Linked DNA regions of Homo sapiens: region 2 is linked to region 1. The links come from fine-mapping of genetic effects on gene expression. Tissue or cell type: whole blood. Region 1 holds a variant in brackets; the other region holds the start of a gene. All regions are shown on one strand. Distances are from middle to middle.

What was found. PIP is the estimated chance that this variant, and not a neighbour inherited with it, causes the effect.
Region 2: it holds the start of SNX27, and the variant in region 1 is fine-mapped to the expression of SNX27 in whole blood (TOPMed, PIP 0.91).

Annotation. Positions count from the first base shown.
Region 1 is chr1:151,651,181-151,659,180 of GRCh38, forward strand. SNX27 (sorting nexin 27) reads left to right here. Exons shown (of 12, transcript NM_001330723.2): 3 at 7,055-7,247. Among named protein-coding and RNA genes, the nearest start is that of SNX27, 43 kb to the left of the region's middle. The variant G/A (reference allele first, on the strand shown) is at 3,318.
Region 2 is chr1:151,607,360-151,615,503 of GRCh38, forward strand. It overlaps SNX27 (sorting nexin 27), which reads left to right and starts at 4,691. Exons shown (of 12, transcript NM_001330723.2): 1 at 4,691-5,153. The coding sequence starts at 4,843. It overlaps LOC124904420 (a long non-coding RNA gene), which reads right to left and starts at 6,009. Exons shown (of 2, transcript XR_007066622.1): 1 at 5,832-6,009; 2 at 3,158-5,040. RefSeq lists an enhancer at 4,467-4,566 and a silencer at 4,607-5,046.

The sequences.
Region 1 (8,000 bases):
GGCAGAGGCGCCCCTCACCTCCCGGGCGGGGCGGCTGGCCGGGCGGGGGGCTGACCCCCCGACCTCCCTCCCAGACGGGGCGGCTGGCCTGGCGGGAGGCTGACCCCCCTACCTCCCTCCCAGATGGGGCGGCTGGCGGGGCGGGGGGCTGACCCCCCCCACCTCCCTCCCGGATGGGGCGGCTGGCCTGGCGGGGGGCTGACCCCCCCCACCTCCCTCCCGGACGGGGTGGCTGCCGGGCGGAGACGCTCCTCACTTCCCAGATGGGGCGGCTGCCGGGCAGAGGGGCTCCTCACTTCTCAGACGAGGCGGTTGCCGGGCAGAGGGTCTCCTCACTTCTCAGACGGGGCGGCCGGGCAGAGATGCTCCTCACCTCCCAGACGGGGTCGCGGCCAGGCAGAGGTGCTCCTCACATCCCAGACGGGGCGGCGGGGCAGAGGCGCTCCCCACATCTCAGACGATGGGTGGCCGGGCAGAGATGCTCCTCACTTCCTAGATGGGATGGCGGCTGGGCGGAGATGCTCCTCACTTTCCAGACTGGGCAGCCAGGCAGAGGGGCTCCTCACATCCCAGATGATGGGCGGCCAGGCAGAGACGCTCCTCACTTCCCAGACGGGGTGGCGGCCGGGCAGAGGCTGCAATCTCGGCACTTTGGGAGGCCAAGGCAGGCGGCTGGGAGGTGGAGGTTGTAGCGAGCCGAGATCACGCCACTGCACTCCAGCCTGGGCACCATTGAGCACTGAGTGAACGAGACTCCGTCTGCAATCCCGGCACCTGGGGAGGCCGAGGCTGGCGGATCACTTGCGGTTAGGGGCTGGAGACCAGCTCGGCCAACACAGCGAAACCCCGTCTCCACCAAAACCAGTCAGGTGTGGCGGCGCGAGCCTGCAATCGCAGGCACTCGGCAGGCTGAGTCAGGAGAATCAGGCAGGGAGGTTGCAGTGAGCCGAGATGGCAGCAGTACAGTCCAGCTTCGGCTCCGCATGAGAGGGAGACCGTGGAAAGAGAGGGAGAGGGAGACCGTGGGGAGAGGGAGAGGGAGAGGGAGAGGGAGAGGGAGAGGGAGACGGAGAGGGAGAGGGAGAGGAAACTGAATCTTAATCTAATTTTTCTCTTTAGATAATTTTTATGGACCTATCATTAAGTTTGCTGATTTTTTCCTCAGCTGTGTCCAGTCTGCTGATGAGACTGTTAGAGGAACTCTTCATTTTTGATACCACGCCTTTTTTTTTTTTTTTTTTTTCCTCAGACGGAGCCTTGCTCTGTCACCTAGGCTGGAGTGCAGTGGTGTGATCTCGGCTCACTGCAACCTCCGCCTCCCAAGTTCACGCAATTCTCCTGCCTTAGCCTCCCGAGTAGCTGGGACTACAGGCAGCCGCTACCACGCCTGGCTAATTTTTGTATTTTTTTTTAGTAGAGACAGCATTTCACCATATTGGCCAGGCTGGTCTCGAACTCCTGACGTTGTGATCCACCCGCCTCGACCTCCCAAAGTGCTGGAATTACAGGCGTGAGCCACTGCGCCCAGCCCATGCGTTTTATTTCTGTCACTTTCATTTGTTATTTGCTTGTAATTTTCACACCTGCTGAAATTCTGTATCTGTTCATACATGTTTTCTGCCTTTTCCTTTTGCATGAGATCTTTAGCATTGTTAATCACGGTTATTCTAATAATATGCTGCCTGATAATTTCAACATCTGGGTCATCTCTGAGACTGTTTTATCTCTTGACATAATGTTGGGTTTCTTTTTTTTTTTTTTTTTGAGATGGAGATTTGCTCTTGTTGCCCAAGCTGGAGTACAATGGCTCGATCTTGGCCCACTGCAACCTCCGCCTCCCAGGTTCAAGCAGTTCTCCTGCCTCAGCCTCCTGAGTAGCTCGAATTACAGGCATGTGCCACCATGCCTGGCTAATTTTGTATTTTTAGTAGAGACAGGGTTTCTCCATGTTGGTCAGGCTGGTCTTGAACTCCTGATCTCAGGTGATCACCCGCCTTGGCCTCCCAAAATGCTGGGATTACAGGTGTGAGCCACCGCACCCAGCCTTTTTTTTTGTTGTTGTTGTTTGTTTGTTTGTTTTCCATTTTTGTTCTGTAATATTTAACAATGTCAAGCATCATGTGTGGAATAATAGTAGAGATGACTGAAGTAAATAGTGTTTCAACTTGGAAATGGGCAATACTCTTCTGTTAGGGAATGTAGTCAGTTAAGCTGGGCTTGAATTTTGTTATAGCTATCATTACCTTTACTGTGCCATAGGCCTCAAGTTTCTCTAGCAATGGGTTGCTATTACCTTGTGCTTAGAGTGAGGGCTGGGGTTCTGAAGGTTTTTAAATTTATTTATTTTTTGTTTTTTGAGACAAGCTCTCCTTCTATCACTCAGACTGGAGTGCAGTTGCACAATAATGGCTCTTTGCAGCCTTGACTTCCTGGCTTAAGCATTCCTCCTGCTTCAGCCTACCAAGTAGCTGGGACCACAAGCACACGTCATCACATCTGGCTAATTTTTTTTTTACTTTTTGTAGAGACAGAGTCCCACTATTTTGTTCAGGCTGGTCTCAAAATCCTGGGCTCAAGTGATCCTCCTGCCTTGGCCTCCCAAAGTGCTGGGATTATAGACAAGAGCCACTGTGCCCAGCCTGGAGAGTTTTTTTTGTTTTTTTTTTTTTTTGAGATGGAGTCTTGCTCTGCCACCAGGCTGGAGTGCAGTGGCGCGATCTTGGCTCACTGCAACCTCCACCTCCTGGGTTCAAGTGATTCTCCTGCCTCATCCTCCCTAGTAGTTGGGACTACAGGCGCACACCACCACGCCAAGCTAATTTTTGTATTTTTAGTAGAGATGGAGTTTCAGCATGTTGGCTGGGATAGTCTTGATCTTTTGACCTCGTGATCCACCCGTCTTGGACTCCCAAAGTGCTGGGATTACAGGCGTGAGCCACCGTGCCCGGCCGACCCTGGAGGGTTTTTTTCAGTGTTTTGTCCTCAGGCTTTCAGCCACCTGTGCATACCAGTACCACAGACAAGTTCTCTCTTTACATTCTTACCCCTCTGCTACTGGTAGACTACTCTTGCTTTTTACTTGGGCTAGACTCATGGTAGAGGTAGATGTTGTGTAGTTCACCCTTAGTCTTAGGCAGAATCTGTGTCTCTGTGTCCTGATTCTTTTGCCCTTCCTTCTTATTGCAGCCAAACTCGGCCTTGTATCTGTGGTTAGTCTTGGGAAAGCGTTTCCTGTCCCTCCCTCAGCTATAGCCGACCTCTGCTTGGTAACAGTGGAGGAACCTGGGCCTAATATGGTTTCCTGCCTCTCCCCAGGG[G/A]TATAGAGTATTTTACTTTTACTCCTTCCCCTGAAGAAGTGGATCTTTGCCTGTGCACTCTGAATGAGAGGATTTACTGCCTGTCTTAGCCTGTTTTCACTGCTTTAATAGAATAACACAGATTGTAGGTCATTTATAAAGAAAAGTGATTTGGCTTACAGTTCTAGAGCCTGAGAAGTCTAATATCAAGGGGCCACATCTGGTGAAGGCCTTTCTGTTGTGTTATAACATGAAGGAAGGCATTCCCTGGTGGGGAAGTGCATGTGAGACAGAGAGCAAATGGGGCCCAAACTCCTGAGATAAATAACCCACTGCCTCAATAATGACATTAATCACGAGAGTTTTGCCATTACCTCTTAAAGATCCCACTTCTTAATACACTTCGTAATCCCACTTCTTAATATATGATAGCTGCTTAATGTCCTTGTCTACTGATTCTTTTGTCTTGGTAACTTCTGAGCCTGTTTCTACTGACTAATTTTTATCCTGGTCATAGGTCAAATTTTCATGCTTTTTTATATGTCTAGTAATTTTTGATTGGATATTGTATATTGTGAATGCAGTGTGATTGGGTGCTAGATTTTGTTACATTTCTTTAAAGAGTGTTGGAATTTTTTTTTTTCTCCTGGCATACAGTTAAGCTACTTAAAGATTACTTTGGTCCTTTTTAGCTTTGTTTTTAAGCTCTTTTTGAGTAGTTTAGAGTACCTTTTACTCTAGAACCAATTTAGCTCCATTCCTAAAGCATGGTCTTTTTGAGTTCCCTTCTAAATTCCATGCAGATTTAGGGAGGTCTCTTTATTCTGGCTGGAGGGAAGTTGAATGATTCCATAACCTGTGTGAACTCTGGGAATTGTTTATTTACTGCTCCCGGCTGATAATAGTTCTTTCCTTAGATCGTTATTCAGTCAAAATTCAAGGGAACTTAATACAGATTTCTGGAGCTATGTCTTGCTTTAGCTCCCTCTTGCATGATTAGTCCTGCAAATTGTAGCTGCTTTGGCCTCCTCGAACTTCAGTTTCTGTTTATTCAACTCAGTGAAGTTGCCAAACTCTGTTTGGGTACCCCTCCCTGAGCTGCAGTTTAGGAGTTACCTCTAGGCAGAAAGCTGAGATTATGTTAGGGATCATCTTGTTTGCTTCCCTTTTCTCAGGGATCACCGTTCTTAGCTGCCTGTTGTCCAGTGTCTGAAAATAGTTGTTGCCTACATTGTGTCCAGTTTTCTGGTTGTATTTAATGGGAGGTTAATTACCACCTGGAAGTCCACAGATTGTTCTATAAATGGAGAATGTTTTTTATTTAGGGATGATTTGATTAAAAGTTGATTTTAAATATTCTTGGCTTTAAAAGAAATGCCAGTGGAACTCTACTTCATATTATATAGAGGAATAAGTTCCAGATGGATTAAGGACTTAAATGACAAAACAAAAAATTAAAAGCTCTTGGCCGGACACGGGTCTCACACCTGTAATCCCAGCACTTTGGGAGGCCGAGGCGGGTGGATCACGAGCTCAAGAGATCCAGACCATCCTGGCTAACACGGTGAAACCCCGTCTCTACTAAAAATACAAAAAATTAGCCGGCCATGGTGGTGGGTGCCTGTAGTCTCAGCTACTTGGGAGGCAGAGGCAGGAGAATGGCGTGAACCCGGGGGGCGGAGCTTGCAGTGAGCAGACATCGTGCCACTGCACTCTTAGCCTGGGTGACAGAGCGAGACTCCGTCTCAAAAAAAAAAAAAAAAAAAAGACCAGTGACAAACTGGAAGAAGATATTCACAATACACACAAATGAAACAGATTATGTCAATATATAAAGAACTCCATAAATCAAATCAATAAGAAAAGCCAAAAAACTTAATATGAAGGTAGGCAAAACGCATGAGTAGGTACTTTACAAAAAATGACACTCACATGGTCAATAAGTATATGAAGAGATATTAAACATCATTAGTAATTAGGATCACAGAAATCTTTTCACACCAATTCCATTGGCAAAATTAAGAGGATCTTTTTATATATTGCTGAAAGAGAATAAATTGGTACAACCACTTTAGCTTACATTTCGGCATTATCTCCTGAGGTTGAATATGCATATAACTCTGCAGTTCACTCAGGGTTGTACTCAGAAGAATATCTTTTGCATGTACAGCAGGAGGCATTTATACAAATGTCAATGGCAGCATTATTCACGGTAGCTAAAATCCAGAAACAACCCAAGTGCTCATGAGTGGGAGAACAGATTAAAAACAAACGAGCAACTATGATATATTCACACAACAAAATGCTGTATGCAGCAGAGTATACCACAAAGACATATAATGTTGTGATGAAACTATAGTATAATATTAACTGAAAAAAGTAAGTCCTTTGAAGTATCATTCATCTTGATACTCTATTTTTATAAAACCAAAATATCCTTTAAAATTAGAATAAAAATAAAAATTTAAGGATTATATATAAATGCAAAAAATATATAAAAAGAAAAGCAAGGGAATCATGAACATGGTTGGATATGATAACTTTTTGCGGTCAGAGAAACAGGGACATAAGGATGTGGAATAGAGGAGGCGGAGACTATATGGTGTAAAGTAAATTATTTTCAAGATCTTAGCTTAGCTTTTATTTTGCTTTTCACATTATCTGCTTAAGGAACTAACAAAAATTCCACTGTTGCTGAAATCATTTTGTTTTTTTGAGACAGTGTGTCCTTCTATTGTCCAGGCTGGAGTGTAGTGGCAGGATCGTGGCTCACTGCTTCCTCTGCCTCCTGGATTCAAACAATCCTCCCACCTTAGCCTCCTGGGACTACAGGCGCATGCCACCATGCCCAGCTTCATTTTTGTATTTTTTTGTAGAGACAGGGTTTCACCATGTTGCCCAGGCTGGTCTTGAACTCTTGGACTCAAGCAATCTGCCTGCCTGTCAGCCTCACAAAGTGTGCTGGAATCACAGACGTGAGCCACCGTGCCCAGGCCGCTTACATCATTTTTAGGCCTTTTCTTTGGAATCAACTTTAGAGCCAGTTTAGGCCACACACGAGTATCAGTTACATTGCTTTATAATCAACCCTAGGTTTTCAGCTCCCTTCAAATTTGCTTGCTTATTGACTCACTATATTTACCACATTGGCTTCAAATGACTTTTAACTTTCTGAAAATAAAATCCACCTTAAAAACTGATAATTGCCTTTGAAGATATTTAAAAGTATGCTAGAGGTCATTTTAATAGCAAAAATAAGATCACACTCCTCCTGCTGGGTGCGGTGGTTCAAGGTGGGTGGATCACCTGAGGTCAAGAGGTCGAGACCAGCCTGGCCAACATGGTGAAACCCCTTCTCTACTAAAAATACAAAAATTAGCCAGGTATGGTGGCGGATGCCTGTAATCCCAGCTATTCAGGAGGCTGAGGCAGGAGAATTGCTTGAACCCGGGAGGCGGAGGTTACAATGAGCCGAGATCATGCCACTGCACTCCAGCCCGGGCAACAGAGTGAGATTCCATCTCAAAAAAACCCCAAAAAACAAAAACAAGATCATGCTCCTTTGGTAGTCCTTTTTTATGCATATAACTTTATGCATGTTTGTCAAAAGTAAGTCTTACTTTAAAGTGAGCTTGAATATAGTCTTTGTTAAATGCATAGCAGAATGCATCTAACCAATATCATCTAAGCCTGACTAGATGATTTTGTGATTTAATTTGTATTAAGTATGCTTTTCTTTTGTTCTTCTCCTTCACCAGGTATATAATGTTTACATGGCAGGGAGGCAGCTGTGTTCTAAGCGGTACCGGGAGTTTGCTATCCTACACCAGAACCTGAAGAGAGAGTTTGCCAACTTTACATTTCCTCGACTCCCAGGGAAGTGGCCATTTTCATTATCAGAACAACAATTAGATGCCCGACGTCGGGGATTGGAAGAATATCTAGAAAAAGGTAATCCAAACCATCAAACTCTACTATATTGAGTAGACGTAGGTTCTAGATATGCAACTTCTAAACTGCATAGCTGAATTTCCAGAACCTCAATAGTGAATGTAAGTCAGGTTTCTGACTAAGTATTGAATGATCTGAACTTTGAAGGCAAAACTGAAATGTCCAGTACAGTGATCAGTAGCCTGTTTCATTGGTTTGTTGAATGCTTAACAACAACAGAAAAATGAATATTTAGTTTTTGATGCATTTGGTGATGCCTAATGGACTTTTTTTTTTAGACGGAGTCTCGCTCTGTCGCCAGGCTGGAGTGCAGTGGCACGATCTCAGCTCAACTGCATCCTCTGCCTCCTGGGTTCAAGTGATTCTCCTGCCTCAGCCTCCTGAGTAGCTGGGACTATAGGCACATGCCACCACGCCCAGCTAATTTTTGTATTTTTTAGTAGAGACAGGGTTTCACCATGTTGGCCAGGATGGTCTCGATCTCTTGACCTCGTGATCCGCCCACCTCGGCCTCCCAAAGTGCTGGGATTACATGGACCTTTATTTTTAGGGTTATATTATCTGCCAGCAAACACATATAGACTCAGCAATATGCTGAATTGATTTGGGAACTAAGTGGGCAATATTAAGACATTTTAAATATTTAAGACATTTTCATTAAAATGATTCTTGGCTTACTGCTGTATCCTACATGAAAACTTTATTCATTTTACAGGTATTCATAGATAGGTTTGCTGAGTTGTAGGTAATCTA
Region 2 (8,144 bases), 44 kb before region 1:
GCACAGTATGTTTTGGGGTTCTCATCTACCACCACCCAGGGCTGATGGCTCCCAAATCTAAGTTCTGGCCCAGACTCCTTTCCCCAGGTCCACACTCATGTGTTCAACCAGTTGTTGGACAATTCCTCTGGGCTTTCCCAAAGGCCCCAAATTAAACTAATCTTCTTCTTGTTTAAATCAAACAAATTTAAACAAATTAAATTAATTTTCCCTGCAAACCTCTTCCGCTTCCTTTTTATGCCATGTCTTGGGGAATCACATCACCATGTCAGGAATCTTATGTCATTCCTTCCTCCCCTACCTTTGCACCTGAGATCCTAGTGGTCACCAAGTCCCTTCTCTCCTGTGCATCCCCCTCCTTGTATTCCCACCACTACTGCCCTAGTTGGCACCTCATTAATTCCCACTGGAATCACTGCAAATGCTTCATAACTGATCTTTCTATCTGACTTCATTCTCCACACATCCTGCAGCATGAACTTTTTGAAGCACAGATTTGTGAATGCCTGTGCTCTGCTTAAAAGCAATCAGAGGCCCCTCACTAATAAGGAATGAAATTCAAACTCCTGGGCATGATATTTGATTTTTTTTTTTTTTGAGACAGAGTCTTGCTCTGTTGCCCAGGCTGGAGTGCAGTGGCGCAATCTCGGCTCACTGCAAGCTCTGCCTCCTAGGTTCACGCCATTCTCCTGCCTCAGCCTCCCGAGTAGCTGGGACTACGGGTGCCCGCCACCATGCCCGGCTAATTTTTTTATTTTTTATTTTTTGTATTTTTAGTAGAGAAGGGGTTTCACCATGTTAGCCAGGATGGTCTCGATCTCCTGACCTCGTGATCCGCCCACCTCGGCCTCCCAAAGTGCCGGGATTACAGGCGTGAGCCACAGCGCCCGGCCGATATTCGATATTTTAAGCCCTCCTGGATCTGACTCTTGCCCACCTCCCCTGTCCACTTCCTGTCTCCTCTGCTCCAGTCCTACTGAACTGTGTGGTCTCACACTGTACTGTGTTCTTTCAAATCTCTGTGTGTTTGAATATGCTGTTTCCTTTGTCAGAAATGCCCTTCCACCACTATCCTTCTCTGCCGCAATTGCTAACTCTTCTCATCTGTAATCACTTAGCTCAGCTCTCCCATTTCGTGAGTCATCTTCCCTAACTCCTCCCTCTGGATACGTGGAAGTCCCTCCGATGTGCAATCCTAGCAGCTTGTGCAGGACTCTCCTCACAGCTCTCATCATGCTCTATTGCAATGGTTTTTTGTTTTCTCTCCTGCTAGATTGTGAATTCTCACCAGCAGTAATGGTGTCTTATTTTCTTTTGTTATTTTAATGCTCTGATCATCTTTTCTTCCAACCTGATCCTTTCTAAATATTTTTAAATTTATTTTTTGAATAGGCAACACTCATGTGACTGAAAATTCAGAAGTTACATAAAGGTATAAAGTGAAAAGTCTCTCTCCTACCCCTGTCCCCGCCTCTGACACCCTAGCTATCCAGTCTCCCTCCCCAGCAGCAATCAGTGTTATCAATTTCTTGTGAATACTTCTAAAGATATAAAAATATATATGGTTCCCTTTTATTTTATTATTATCTTTTTAGATGGAGTCTTGCTCTGTCGCCAGGCTGGAGTGCAGTGGCGTGATCTTGGCTCACTGCAACCTCCACCTCCCAGGTTCAAGCGATTCTCCTGCCTCAGCCTTCTGATGAATACAGGCACCTGCCATTATGCCCGGCTAATTTTTGTATTTGTTTTGTTTTGTTTGTTTTTGAGACAGAGTCTTGCTCTGTTGCCCAGGCTGGAGTGCAGTGGCACAATCTCAGCTCACTGCAACCTCCACCTCCCGGGTTCAAGTGATTCTTCTGCCTCAGCCTCCCGAGTAGCTGGGACTACAGGTGTGCACCACCACACCCGGCTAATTTTTGTATTTTTAGTGGAGACGGGGTTTCGCCATGTTAGCCAGGCTGGTCTCAAACTCCTGACCTCAGGTGATCCACCCACCTCGGCCTCCCAAAGTGTTGGGATTACAGGCGTGAGCCACCGTGCCTGGCCCATGGTTCCCGTTTTATATACAAATAGTATCATGTTGTATAGATTGTGCTGCACTTTGTTTTCACCAAATCATATATAGTATTGATGATATGATCATTCCATATAAGTGCATACAGAGCTTCCTTATTCTGTGTTTACATTGATTCAATTTTCCATTGTGGATACATTATGATTTAACAAATAAACATTAGGTTGTTTTCAGTCTTTTGTGAATACAAACAATGCTGCAATGACTTAACTTCATAAAAACATCACTTCACACATGTGCAAGTGTAACAGTAGAATGAACTCCTGGAAGTGGAATCGCCTTCAGTTTGAGGAATATGTGTATTTGTAAGTTTGACCATGTCCTGTTGCCTTTCGGGGACATTCAGTATATTTTTATCTAATTCAGAGTAGGCATTCAGTATATTTTTATCTAATAAACCAATGAAAAAATAACTCTTTTAGGGGAGGCTCCCTTCTTTTTCCTTTCTCTGATGCCTTGCTTTCCCCATCCAGTGCTCAGTTCAAACCAAATTATTCATATTCAATCCAAATGCCACTATTATTTTGGAGCAAAACTCTTATATCAACTTTATTGTGTAACTAGTCAAGATCCTTCTTCATTAGCTTGGTTGTAAAATAAGGTCATATTAATTTTTATGTTCTAATTATAATGACTTTGAGTCCTCATCCCATATTTTGTGAGATCTCATCTTTGTTTTTTGGAGACAGGATCTCACTCTGATGGTCAGGCTGGAGTACAGTGGTGTGATCTCAGCTCTCTGCAGCCTTGACCTCCTAGGCTGAAGCGATCCTCCCACCTAAACCTCCTAAGTAGCTGGGACTACAGGTATGTGCCATCATGCCCAGCTGCTTTTTTTTTTTTTTTAGATATAGTCTCGCTCAGCCACCAGCTAATTTTTTATTTTTTGTTGAGATGGGGTCTCACTATGTTGCCCAGTTTGGTCTTGAACTCCTGGGCTCAAGGAATCCTCCCACCTCGGTCTCCCAAAGTGCTGGTATTACAGGCATGAGCCACCACACCCAGCCTTTAAAAATTTGGGGGGACTCTTTTGTAATAACAGTTAGCTTAAAACACAAACACATTGTACAGATGTACAAAATATTTTCTTTCTTTATATCTTTATTCCATAAGCTTTTTTTCTATTTAAGGCAATTTTTAATTTTATGTTTTAAACTTTTTTTTTTGGTTAAAAACTAAGACTTAAACACAAACATAGCCTATGCCTACACCAGATCTGGATCATCAATTTCACTGTCTTCCACCTCCATCTCTTGTCTCACTGGAAGGTCTTCATGGGTAATAACATGCACAGAGCTGTCATCTGATGGTAACAATAACTGGGGCCAGGCACAGTGGCTCACACCTGTAATCCCAGCACTTTGGGAGGCTGAGGTGGTTGGATCACCTGAGGTCAGGAGTTCGAGACCAGCTTGGCCAACATGGTGAAACCCTGTCTCTACTAAAAATACCAAAAAATTAGCCAGGCATGGTGGCGCATGCGTTTAATCGCAAGGGATTTGGGAGGCTGAGGCAGGAGAATCACTTGAACCTGGGAGGCAGAGGTTGCGGTGAGCCGATATCGTGCCATTGCATTCCAGCCTGGGCGATAAGAGCGAAACTCCATCTTAAAAAAAAAAAAAACAAAAAAACAAAACAAAACAAAAAAACACAATACTTGGAATACGTGGAAAAAAATCACAATACTTAGAATACCTAGAATACCTTCTGAAGGACCTGCCTGAGGCTGCTTTACAGTTAACTTAAAAAAAAAAGTAGAAGGAGTACACTCTAAAATAGTGATAAAAACTACAGTGAATTCATAAACTAGTAACATAGTTCTTACCATTATCAAGTATTATGTACTGTACATAATCATATGTGCTATACTTTCACATGACTGGCAGTGCAGGTTTGTTAACACCAGCATCACTCCAAACATGTGAGTAATGCTTGTGCTATGACCTTATGGTGGCTACTGTGCCACTAGGTGATAGACATTTTTCAGCTCCATTATCATCTTAGGGGGCCTCCCTCGTGTTTGCAGTCCATTGTAGACCAAAATGTCCTTATGTGGCACATGACTGTAGTTGCAATACAGGACAAGAAAGTTGCACAATAACTGGGCCTTAGTTCCTGATACTTAGTAGCTGGATGACTTTGAGCACTCTAAGGTTGTTTCCTAATAACGTAAAATAGGGAAGCTAATCGTGATCCGGTTGCCTCACAGGTTGTTGGGCCCTGGTCAACATATAAGTTACTGTGCCAAAAAATGAGTTGATATAATTTAAGACTGTGTTGAATCACAAACGTTAAGTTATTCTAACATTATTGTTTTTTAGAGGTTATGAAATGAAAGGGGGGGGGGCGAAAAACTTGGTCCGCATCAAGAACTGAATCATTTTACCACGCTGGGTGCTGGGTTATACTCTCCCCACCCAGCAGATCAAACTCCTAACCCAGCATGAAAGATAAACTACAACTCCCGGCAGGCCTTGCTTCCGAACTGCGTCTTATAACCTCGGCTCAGGCCCAGGCCCAGACCGCTCCCCGCCCCCGCCACCCATAAACTACATCTCCCAGGAGGCCCCACGGTGCCCGATTGTCCGCTTTTCGCCCGCCCCCTGCCTCCTCTTCACCCCGCGCCAGCAGCTCGGTGGCCGAGTCGGTCCCGCGGCCGGCGGATCGGGCGCGCGCGTCGGGGGTCGTCCGGCTGCCAGGCAGGGCGAGCACGCGCCGGGAGGCCTTGGAGGCGTAGGGGGCGGGGGTACGGCTCGCCTGCTCGCAAGATGGCGGACGAGGACGGGGAAGGGATTCATCCCTCAGCCCCTCACAGGAACGGAGGTGGCGGCGGCGGCGGGGGGTCTGGGCTCCACTGCGCCGGGAACGGCGGCGGGGGAGGCGGCGGCCCGCGGGTCGTGCGCATCGTCAAGTCCGAGTCCGGCTACGGCTTCAACGTGCGGGGCCAAGTGAGCGAGGGCGGGCAACTGCGGAGCATCAACGGGGAGCTGTACGCGCCGCTGCAGCATGTGAGCGCCGTGCTGCCCGGGGGGGCGGCCGATCGGGCCGGGGTGCGCAAGGGGGACCGCATCCTGGAGGTGTGAGTATCGGGGCTACCCGCCGCCCCATCCTCCCCGCGCCCCTCCTGCCCCTGCACTCCTCGCTACCCTTGTCACCCCCAGGCCGCACCTCCCCCGAGCTCCGAGCCGGCCTCCGGACCCCCGCCCCTCAGGCCTCCGCAGCCGGGCCCCTCCTTGTGGGCTGCCCTCCCACCACCCGCCCCGGGGCTTCTGCGACGCCGGTCTCCCACCCCGTCGTCTCCAGCTGATGCCCTTGCGCCCCCAGTGCTCCTCCCTGTGCCCCGATTACTCTGGGCTCTTCTCCGCCCCTTTGCCTTCCCGTTTGGCGTGCTGCATTCTGCTCCTCACTCCCCCTCGTCTTGCTCAGAAGGAACCTCATCTGCTCCTTACTGACGGCGTTTCGTTTTCTGATCCAGCCAGTACCGTGTCCCCCCCAAGTTCTCATCTTCAGCATCGCAGTTTCGTTCTCCACCACTCCCCTCCGCCCCCGTGGACTGCCCCTTCTGCCCTCCAGACCAAGTAGGCAGGACCTCTGGTCTGCTCCTACTTTTCCTCCGGAAACACCATCCCTCCCCGCTCGTCTCCTTTTTCTTTCCTTAGTTACCCTCTCCTCATGGTTACGCTGCCCCTAAATTTTTCCATCCCACCGTGTGCCCCTTTCCTCCCCTCCTTTTTGTATTTCTACTCCAAGAGTTTACCTTGCTTTCTGACCCTTGCATGCCTTTGGGGTGGGGGGCGTGGGATTTGACACCGTAGTTTCTCTTCTCGGTTGGCCCCGTATCACACCCTAATTTGGAATCTAGCGTCTCCATCAGCACACCCCTCTGAGAGCATCCCTTCCCTGGCCTCCTGCCTTCACTCCTGCTCTATACTCATGCCTCCTCCTAGTCAGGTTTATGGTAGACCCCTTGTAACTCCTCCTCCTTCAAAACTACTTCAAGCCCTTTTTGGGTCTTTGACCGCTTTGCTTTTTTAGGGCATGCCCGTCTCTGCTGCCTCTTCTACTCTATCCTCCTGTGATCCCACACTTGACTTTGTCCTAGTCTTTCCCTCCCCTAGGCTGCTTTTCCTTTCTTCTGTTTTTTAAGGCGCCTTCTGCTGCTGCAGCCCACCCTCTCTCCCCTGCTGCAGTCCCTCCCCCTTCATACGCCTCCCCCACCACATCCCTCCATGCTCTTGCGGGATGCTGCCTTGTCTTGCAATCTCTGTGCACACCGCCTCCATTACCCTAATCTAGGTGTTACATTTGCCTTTTTGTACTTCGTATTGAAATTCGGATAGTGATTGCCGGTTGACTTGCAGGTGGTGTGTGCTCGCGTTGTCTCCGTTCTCCTCAGCAGTCTTCAGTGCTGTGTTTCTGCTTACTGAATCTATGTTGTGCATTCCTTTTTTACACTTTTACTCTCTCCCTCCATATTTCGATTTGCCCACTTGAAATCGTTCTCATTTTTTATAAATTTTAATTGTAATTTCCGCAACCTTCTGTTGCCTCTTGTAAAACAGTAGGTTTGCAAAAGGGATAGTTTTTTGAAAATCTGCCTTATAGAGAAATCCATTCCTTCTTACTCATCTCGTGCCATCTACCCTTATCCTTGACATTCTTAACTCCATGGTGTCCACTCATTCTGTTTCCTCACCTCTTCCACCTCAAGAAATGGTTGGTTTTAACCTGGGAGAGTTGATTGAAAAAAAAAAAAAGAAATAGTTGCTCACCTAGGCCAGTGTTTGGAGACAGTATACCTTTCCTCTGTCCTTTCTGTAAATAGATGCTTTCTTGTTTCATTAATGTCCTACATACTGTTTCCTAGTATTCCTAGTATTGTCTGACAATATATTCTTTTTTTTTCCTTGAGATGGAGTTTTGATCGTCACCCAGGCTGGAGTGCAGTGGCGCGATCTCGGCTCACTGCAACCTCCGCCTCCCGGGTTCAAGCGATTCTCCTGCCTCAGCCTCCTGAGTAGCTGGGATTACAGGCATGTGTCATCATGACCAGCTAATTTTGTATTTTTAGTAGAGACGGGTTTCACCATGTTGGCCAGGCTGGTCTGAAACTCCTGACCTCAGGTGATCCGCCCGCCTCGGCCTCCCAAAGTGCTGGGATTACAATAATGACTTTCAGATTTCTTATACTTGGGCACCTAATTATTTTCTTTCTAGATAACTCAAAATTTGTGGCTGATGTTTTCTTCCAATAGAAGGTCTCAGAATTGTCACTTTCCTTTCCCTTTGGAAGTTAATTTTGGACTCAGCTTCTTATTTTTAAATTTAAAACTAAAGCATTTATAATTATAAATTTATGATGAAGTTCTACATTATTTACTCTTCACAGGATCTAAAGGAACTAAACCAAAAAGAATAATTCTGTAGGAGACTATAGTTAATATGATCTATCTTTGCAGATACACGCACACATCCCAACATACATAGTTAGTGGCTTCTTGCCTTTATTGTGGCTTCTGCCCAAGAGCCTAGGTATAAACTGTAAAGGAGACCTCAGATAATCCCCTAGGAAAGGTAGAAGGACTTGCCTTAGGCTCAGGTTCCAGACTAGGAAGCTGGGAAATCTTTGCCTTCTAGAGAAAAAACATTACTTTTTGGCACATCCTTTGTGGTAAGTAGAGAACTTTGTCACTTTTAGTGGGCAGGGGAAAAGAATACTCTGCCTAGAAGACCTCTCTGGAAGGTTGTGATAATCAGAAATCTTCCTGGCATTGGTTTCTCACTCTTCCAACTATCTGTATTTTGATTTCCAAATTCTCTGAACCTTCTTTGGTACTATAGGGGAAGTAATGATAATTACAGCCCAAAGCCAAGCTAGTGGTACATTCTGTGAGACCCCAACTATACAGTGTCTTTCTCTTTTCTTTTTTTTTTTCTTCCTTTCTTCGATAGTCTGCGCCTTCTCTTTAGGGTTTCAAGTGAGAGGGGAAATCAGCAACCAAATAGATGTGGTTCTTGAGGGATATCTGTGCCCGCTACTTGTCTCGATCTTGGTTAGGTTGATGCTAAT